Regions from separate parts of the Homo sapiens genome. Here region 1 is linked to region 2. Evidence: fine-mapped expression QTL. A gene starts in region 2. The other region holds a variant in brackets. All regions are shown on one strand. Distances are between the middles of the regions. Region 1 overlaps GRK4 (G protein-coupled receptor kinase 4). Region 2 holds the start of SLC75A1 (solute carrier family 75 member 1).

Region 1 (4,383 bases), 90 kb before region 2:
GAGTGTGTAGAAAGATTAGCCAGCCCTGGAAGCGGACACTATCTTCAACTTATTCACCACTTATCCTCAGCTTCTAATATCATACCCTGGCCTACAGTAGGTGCTCAATAAATATTTATTGGTGAAATGAATGAATAACCAATAAATGTTTGCTAAAAACTAAAAATATGCGACATGCCCTCCAAGGCACTGTAGTCATTTTAAAACAGTCTGCATGATGCTTTAGAGAGGAAAGCCGGCCTCTGACTCAGATGCATGCACGTGATACACCACACCCCGCCCTTGCTGCGCGCCCACCCTGGGAGGCGGGAGAGCACAGGGGTGAGGAGCACAGACCCAGCCCGATGGCGTGGGTCTGAGTCCTGGCTCTGCCATGTACTATCATGTCTCAGTTTCCTCCCCTTGTACAGATGCATTCTTTCAATAATCCACATTTCATTTTCTTTTCTTTTCTTTTGTAGAGACAGGGTTTGGTCATGTTGCCCAGGCTGGTCTTGAACTCCTGGGCTCAAGCGATCCTCCCACCCTGGCCTCCCAAAGTGCTGGGATTACAGGCGTGAGCCACCGTGCCTGGCCAGCTTTCGTGTATTTTTCATTTAAGTAGAGTGCTAACATGTTGTGACTTATTTTTTTCGTATCATTGTCTTATTTTTCTTATAAAAATGGATTTTTAAACTGAGAAATGCAACTTAAAACTACACTGAAATACCAATTCCCAGCTAACAAACTGACAAAAACTCCAAAGTTCGAGAACTCGGTCTGCTGGCGAGGCTGTGGGGAAACAGGTGCTCTCGTGCACTGCTGGTGGGAATGCAGACGGGAAACACCCTGGAGCGGAATCTGGCAATATCTGACAAATTGCGTATGAATTCACCCACTTCTAGGACTCTATCAAGGATACATTCAACGAAATAGGAAATTACATGTGCCCAAGGCTCTCCATCGCGGCACCAACGGAAACAGCACCGGTGGAGATGACACGCTTACCAGCGAGGGCTGCGCAAACAGGTCAGGTTCGCCTGCAGGAGGCACAGCAGACGGACGGAAGCCGTCCATGAGTGTTGCAGAGCCATCTCCACCGTATATTCAGTGAAATAGCCACGTGGAGGACAATACATGTGGTCTACTACTTTATTTAAGAAATGAGTGGGGAACAAATATATCTATACATATATAGTATGTAAATGAAGGAATGAAATATGAGTTAAAATAATTACTTGGGGATGGTCAGGGATGGAATCTAGACATCTTACGATACACTCTATTTTGCGGTGTTATCTTTGGAACCACATAAATGTTTTACATAATTATAACATTAAAAAATTAGATTGCTGGCCGGGCGCGGTGCTCAAGCCTGTAATCCCAGCACTTTGGGAGGCCGAGGCGGGCGGATCACAAGGTCAGGAGATCGAGACCATCCTGGCTAACACGGTGAAACCCCGTCTCTACTAAAAAAAATATAAAAAATTAGCCGGGCGTGGTGGCGGGCGCCTGTAGTCCCAGCTGCTTGGGAGGCTGAGGCAGGAGAATGGCATGAACCTGGGAGGCGGAGCTTACAGTGAGCCGAGATCACGCCACTGCACACCAGCCTGGGCGACAGAGCAAGACTCCGTCTCAAAAAAAAAAAAAAAAAAAATTAGATCGCTAAAAATTGAAAGCAAAATTAAGAAAATGAACCTAATGGTGTATCCAGCTGGTGGTTTAACCGCACAGAAGGGAATGATACTGAGTGACTTTTTTTTTTTTTTTTTTTGAGACAGAGTCTCACTCTGTCACCTAGGCTGGAGTGCAATGGCTTGATTTCAGCTCACTGCAACCTCCGCCTCCCAGGTTCAAGCGATTCTTCTG[C/T]CTCAGCCCCTCAAGTAGCTGGGACTACAGGCATGTATTACCACACCCAGCTAATTTTTGTATTTTTAGTAGAGACAGGGTTTCACCATGTTGGCCAGGCTGGTCTTGAACTCCTGACTTCAGGTGATCCACCTGCCTTGGCCTCCCAAAATATTGGGATTACAGGCAAGAGCCACTGTGCCCGGCCTCTGAGTGACTTTAAATTAATTTGAGTGAACAACCCTAGAACCAAAGAACTTTTGCTAATGACTAAAAGAACTGCAAAGAAATATTTTACTGGTTTTGTTGTTGTTGTTGTTGTTTGTTTGTTTGTTTTTTGAGACGGAGTCTCACTCTGTCGCCCAGGCTGGAGTGTAGTGGTGCAATCTCGGCTCACTGCAACCTCTGCCGCCCGGGTTCAAGCGATTCTCCTGCCTCGGCCTCCTGAGTAGCTGGGATTAGAGGTGCACTGCCACGCCCGGCTAATTTTTGTATTTTTAGTAGAGACAGGGTTTCACCATGTTGGCCAGGCTGGTCTCGAACTCTTGACCTCAAGTGATCCACCTGCCTCAGCCTCCCAAAGTACTAGGATTATAGGTACAAGCCCCACACCTGGCCTACAATTTTTTAAAATTAGCCAGATATGGTGGCTCATGCCTGTATTCCCAGCTACTCAGGAGGCTGAGGCAAGGCGGATCGCTACAGCCCTGGAGGTCAAAACTGCAGTGAGGCATAATTGCACCGTAACAACTAAAATATCCTTAATCGCTGCTGGATGTGGTGGTGCATGCCTGAAACTCCAGCTACGTGGGAGGCTGAGGCAGGAGGGTCGCTTAGGCCCAGGAGTTTCAGGTTGTAATTGTGCCACAATCGCACCTGTGAGTAGCTACTGCACCCAGCCTGGGTAGCATAGAGAGACCCTGACCTTAAAAAGAACTTTAAAAAAAGGAAAACTGTGGTCATCGGCATCAGAGGACTGTGGTCCCCAAGAGAAGAGACAGGGAACTGGCCCAGCAACCATCCTGGCATCCCACCCGGGAGTGCCTTTCAGATCGTGGCGCAGGAGGGGAACCTGGGCAGAGCAGGGGTCTTGCTAAGTTAGCCAGGCAGGAGTTAGCACTGGGGAAAGACAGCTCAGCTCAAACATGTGGGGTAAAGTTCTAAAGAAGAGAGAACTACACAGAAAAATCTCCTAAAAACACAGAAAAAGGTTATCAGTGTGCTCCCCTGCCTTGTTATCACTTCTAACCATTTCTCATGATTGTCCCTTTATGTTTCTTTATGTTTATGAGCAAGCACACTACACACAATTCCCTGCTTTGTTTACACAAAAGGGAGCACACTACACACACACTCTGCACCGTACCCTGTTCCGATCAACCACATAGCTTGGAGATTGCTCCACTTTGCATACAGAGCACGTTCTACCTACCCTTGTTAAGCCTTTTAACAACTCAGTAAGTGAGCAGCTTCGCTTAGTGCCCTCCCCACCCAAAGCCACCTCTGGTGAGCAGCACAGCACCAGGAATGAACCACAGGCTAAGTCAGGAGCTACGGACACAACCTTGGACAAGTCTGATTCCTAAATCTTGGTATCGCCTTCCATTAAATGAGAATTCCAGTACCCTCCTTCCTCACAGGGCAGGGTGTCATACATGAATTAGATAAGCATGAAAGCATCTGGCAGAGGCATAAAAGGAGACTAGCATTCCAAGTCCCCCACGACTGCCCTCAATCTCCGCCTTAGACGCCTGTCCTCTTCTCGGCAGGAGCCACTGACCTTGCCATGTGTGCTCTACTAGACTGTAAGACCCTTCTTTGCCAAGAAAACTCACTTGAAAGAAGCTCTCTCCCAGCACTGCTTGTGAGCTATGTGTGAGCACAACCACCCTCCCCAGCAGTGCAACCATCCTTGCATTCTGGGTATGACTCTCCCTTAGAGGAACCAAGGTGGAGTGTGCACCCATGCTGCAGACAAGGAGCCTGCTGAAAAGGGCCACTCCCTGTCCACTATTACAGGGTCTCCAAGCAGCCATCTGCACCCTGCTCTGTGACACATGCTATGTGACAAGAGGACAGCACCAGGGGCAACATGACAAAGTTTAGAGGGGAATGGAAATAAAAAAGAATAAAGCAAGAGGTGGGTCAACAGCAAGAAACAAGAGGGAGAAAACGTTCTGACTTTGTGTTTACTTTAATGTGCTTCTAGGTGGGGCACAGTGGCTTATGCCTGTAACCCTAGTGCTTTGGGAGGGAAGGCAGGAGGACTGCTTGAGGGCAGTAGTTTGAGAACAGCCTGGGCAACATAGCATGACCCCTATCTCTACAAAAAAAATTTAAAAATTAGCCAAGCATGGTGGCGCACAGCTGTAGTCCCAGCTATGCAGAAAGCTGAGATGGGAGGGTCATTTGAGCCCAGTAGTTCAAGGCTGCAGTGAGCTATGATTACACCACTGCACTCCAGCCTGGGCGACACAGCAAGACCCTGACTTAAAAAAAAAGGCTTCTAAAACTCAATCATTAATTGAAAATTATGACCATCTCTGCTTCTTGCCT
Region 2 (4,322 bases):
GCAGTTACTGCCGCGGTTGGGCTGCCTGGTAGGCCTGGAGCTCAAAATGAGTCAGTCTCTCTCTGGAAAGCGCAAGACAGAGACAGCGCTGGTGGCAGCTGGGCTGAAGCCAGCAGCTTGGAGATGAGGCTCAGGCCCTGACGGGGGAAATCTTACCCAGCCTCCCCAGATGGCTCAGAGACAGGTCTGGCAGGTGCACGGATCCACAAATCTAGAAGAGTCTGGGGTTGTCACATCCACCAACTAGGCTGGCTGTCTATATACACTTTGTCACTGTGTAGGCCCAGGATTTCACCCATCTACAAATTTTCTCTGCCACACGGCTACTGCCACTTTAATTCACCAAGCCAAGCCTTTGCACTCAGGACCCTGGCCCAACCCTCTTTGGCCAAGCAAAGAGGAAACGAGAACAGGACAGAAAAAAAAGTGGGACCGGACCAGGCACCTGGCTGTCCATTGAGGCCTTGCTATGCGATCCAGGACGGAAGGTGCCGGCAGCAAGCTCATACACTCTAGCTGCGTGTCATGTCATTGAAGAGGGCGCGTGATCCAGCTGGAAGGGTGGATAAAAGTGTAACTGCCCAGTGGGTTCACCTTCCCTGTTACCTAGACAGCCAATTTATCAAGAAAGGGCATTTGCAACAGAGAAAAGGTAATTCACGCAGAGCTAGCTGTGTGGGAGACTGGAGTTTTATTATTACTCGGTCTCCCTGAGCATCTGGGGTTTGGAGTTTTTAAAGATAAGCTGGTGGGTGGGGGGCAGCCAGTGAGTCAGAAGTACCCATTGGTCAGGTCAGAGATGAAATCACAGGGAGTCGAAGCTGTTTTCGCACTGAGTCAGTTCCTGGGTGCCACAACATCAGATGAGCCTGGGTGGTGCCAGGTGACCCACCAAGTGCTGATCTTAGGCTTTACGATGGTGATGTTATCGCCAGGAGCAGTTTGGGGAGGGTCAGAATCCTGTAGCCTCCCGCTGCGTGACTCTTCAACCGTAGTTTCTAATCTTGTGGCTAATCTGTTGGTCCCACAAAAGCAGGCTAATCCCCAGGAAAGGTTTCCTTTGGGAAAGGGCTGTTATCATCTTTGTTTTAAACTAAGTTCCTCCCACAGTTCAACCTGCGTGCAGCAGTAAACAAGGAGGGCATGGAGGTTAGAAGCAAAATGGAGCTGGTTATCTCACTGTCGGCAAATTTTGCAATGGCAGTTTCATAGAGATGCCTGTCCTCTGGGAAAAAAGCTAATAACAGGTTGTCTTTTTGGCTGCAGGTGGAAAACTGCATCTATTAGGAAGAGGTGGGGCTTTGTTCTTACCCACAATTGGAAGTTCTCTATGGAGTAAAGGCGGTATGTGTGCCACCTGATTCCTTTCCCCATGTGTATCTGGTTAGGGTCGGCCACGTGAGATCCGCAAGCATTTTAGAAGGTGGGAGGGGAGGTGGGAGCTGGCTACAGGCCAGGCGTTGGCGTGGTTCCGTGAGTGTGCTCCAGCCAGGCCCAAAGCTTCTCCTGCCCAGAGGGACCGTTTCCTCCAGCGTGGGTCGGGTGCTTCTGCGCCCGGAAAGAGCGCCAGCTCCTCCTTCGGGTGACCCAGGGAGCGGGGCTGCAGGCAAAGGCGCAGGCGGCCAAAAAGGTGCCAACCGGGTCCTGTGGCTTTCAGTTGTCTCTGCCCACCCAATTCACACCATCTTTCCCCCTCAGCCGCCTGTCCTGGGACTTCAGGCTCAGCACCAAACGCAGCAAAAGTAGGTGCACAGAGAGCGGGGTCAGCTCACGCAGCCCGAGCAGAATGGCTGTGCTGCCGCCCCAGGCCCGCGGCCACCGCTGTGTGTGTGGCAGGAGTCAGCCCCCCAGCGTGGGGCCCCGAAGCCCGCGGTCCTTCCACGGGGAGGGCCAGGCCCGCAGGGCGCAGACGATGGGGGACAGGCTGCGCCAGCGCTCGCCTGAGGCCCCGCACACAAACCTCAGGCCCATGGGTCCGCTCCGCGGGGCAGGCGTCGTGGGCCCAAGGAGGCCAGGCCAGGAGTCTCGGCCTCGGGGTTACGCGGCGGCGGGCAGCTCTTCCGCTCCGCTCAGGGTGCTGCTAACCCACAGCCAAGCAGCGACCCGCAGGACCGGCGAGAACCCCGCCACTGACTCCGGCCGGAAGAGAACGTGCAGAGATGTACGTCACTTCCGGGGCGTGGCGTGGCCGGGCGTGGCCGTCCCGCCCCTGGCGGCGTGCCTGGTGCCCTGTTCCGCGTCTGTGCGACCGTCCGTCCCGAGCGCGCAGCCGCGGCAGGTGCGGGGCGGGACCGGGGGCGCCCGGGGTGGGGGGCGTAGGGGGCGCTCGGGTTGGGGGTGGGACAGGGGACGCGCGGGGTGGGGGAGGAGACGGGACCCGGGGTACGCGGGGGTGGGGCGGGTGAGAGGTGCGCAGGGTAGGGGAGTAGGGGGCGCGCGGGGTGTGGGGCTGGACCAGGGGCGCGCGGGGTGGGGGCGGTGGGAGGCGCGCGGCGTGGGGGTTAGAGGGCGCGCAGGGTGGGGGACGGGACCGGGGACGCGCAGGGTGGGGGGCGGGACCGGGGGCGCGCGGGGTGGGGGCGGGACCGGGACGCACGCGGGATGGCGGAGTGGGAGGCGCGCGGGGTTGGGGGTGCTCCTGCGTCCGGTGTGCACCCCATGGCCCCCGCCAGGGAGACCGAGTCCGGGCCAGGGGCCGGAATCGCGGGGCGCGGGCCGGGGCTGGGGTTGGGGTTGGGATCGGGATCGGGATCGGGATCGGGATCCGGGTTCCCCGCGGCTTCAAGTTTTCTCTCGCTGTTACGAGGGCGTGGGAGGCGCGGCCGTGGGGTGGGGTGGGGCCAGGTCCGCGATGTGCTCACCCTGGTCTCTCAGGACCGTTGCCTTTGCGGCTATTTTTTGTGCAATCCCCGAAGCCTGCGTTTCCTGCTGCCTGGGTTCGGGGCGGGGGCATCGCGCAGGCCAGAACGGCCCCTGCGTCCGTAGGCCAGAGCCCCTGCCATCAGCCCCTTTAGGGTGCTCGCCGGCTGTCGGGTGTGGGGGTATGCCAGGCCCCGGAGGACTCGGCTTCCCCGCTAACCCGACCCGCCGCACCCCACCCAGGCCAGGTCAGAGCAGCCCACCATGGGATGGGGAGGGGGTGGAGGCTGCACCCCGCGCCCACCCATCCACCAGCAGCCGCCGGAGCGCCGCGTGGTCACCGTTGTCTTTCTCGGCCTCCTGCTGGACCTCCTGGCCTTCACGCTGCTGCTGCCCCTGCTGCCCGGGCTGTTGGAGAGCCACGGCCGTGCCCACGTGAGTCCTTGCCCTGCGGCCCACAGTGCCCCCTGCCCCCCAGGCCCATCAGACCTCCCCAGCCCTTATCGTGATTCCTCATCCCCTAGGACCCCCTCTATGGCTCCTGGCAGGGCGGGGTGGACTGGTTTGCCACCGCCATCGGGATGCCAGTGGAGAAGAGGTACAACAGTGTCCTGTTCGGAGGTATGGCTGGCTCTGTGCCCTTGGCGGGCTCTCTACGGTCCTATGTTTGGTGGACGTGGTCCAGCCCAGGCCCCTCCCCAATTCTCGGTCCTTGCCTTCCCACTCCCTGGGCTGGCATGTCTGGTGCCCTTGCCCACATGTCCTGGCTTCTGGGCATGATCCCTTGCCTCCGCGTGTCACGTTCAGATCCTTCCTCATCTCTCCATTGGGGCCCCCTCGGCTCAAGGGCCATGGCCTGTGAGTGTAGGGCCCAGCATGACTGGACCCTCAGGACGGGGCTGGACATTGGCCTTGAGGGCCCCAAGACCACAGCTCATGGTGCCAGGCAGCCCCATGATGGTGACATCTGTCTCTCAGGTCTCATTGGCTCGGCATTCTCTGTCCTGCAGTTTCTGTGTGCGCCACTCACTGGGGCCACCTCTGACTGCTTGGGGAGGCGCCCGGTGATGCTGCTGTGCCTGGTATGTTCCTGGGCCTGGGTGCCCATGGGGAAGCCTCCTCCCACCCAGCCAGTAGCCCCATGGGGTTAGGTGGGGAGAGGGAGGTGGCTGTGGGCCCCTCATGGCCACTGGTTGGCCCTCATCGCATCCTGGAGGGGGTTCTCGGGGGACCAGTGGCTCCTGTTCCAGAGCCAGGCTTTCAAGGAGCTGCTCCTGGCCCCTAGGAAGGCACTGAGAACGCAAGTGGCCCTCAGATGCTTCGAAATAGGGCAGGGTTGAGGGGTGTTGTCTGGGTTGCCAAGCCCTACTCTGAGCCACTCCTGGCCTTAAGCGACCGCCCCTGCCTCTTGGCCCCTGCCCCTGGGCAGATGGGTGTGGCCACCTCATATGCAGTCTGGGCCA

What was found. PIP is the estimated chance that this variant, and not a neighbour inherited with it, causes the effect. A credible set is the group of variants that fine-mapping cannot tell apart.
Region 1: its variant is the best candidate, but not a certain one, in a credible set for the expression of SLC75A1 in blood mononuclear cells (TOPMed, PIP 0.70).

The regions. Positions count from the first base shown.
Region 1 is chr4:3,022,641-3,027,023 of GRCh38, reverse strand. The region is part of intron 10 of GRK4 (G protein-coupled receptor kinase 4); the gene reads right to left. Among named protein-coding and RNA genes, the nearest start is that of HTT, 50 kb to the left of the region's middle. The variant C/T (reference allele first, on the strand shown) is at 1,849.
Region 2 is chr4:2,932,725-2,937,046 of GRCh38, reverse strand. SLC75A1 (solute carrier family 75 member 1) reads left to right here and starts at 2,222. Exons shown (of 13, transcript NM_001146069.2): 1 at 2,222-2,278; 2 at 3,103-3,294; 3 at 3,384-3,480; 4 at 3,838-3,941; 5 at 4,289-4,322. The coding sequence starts at 3,124. NOP14-AS1 (NOP14 antisense RNA 1) reads right to left here and starts at 1,501. Exons shown (of 4, transcript NR_015453.2): 1 at 1-1,501. RefSeq lists enhancers at 143-382, 185-1,384, 2,642-3,509, 3,602-3,731, 3,752-3,981 and silencers at 1,773-1,882, 2,043-2,352, 2,582-2,801.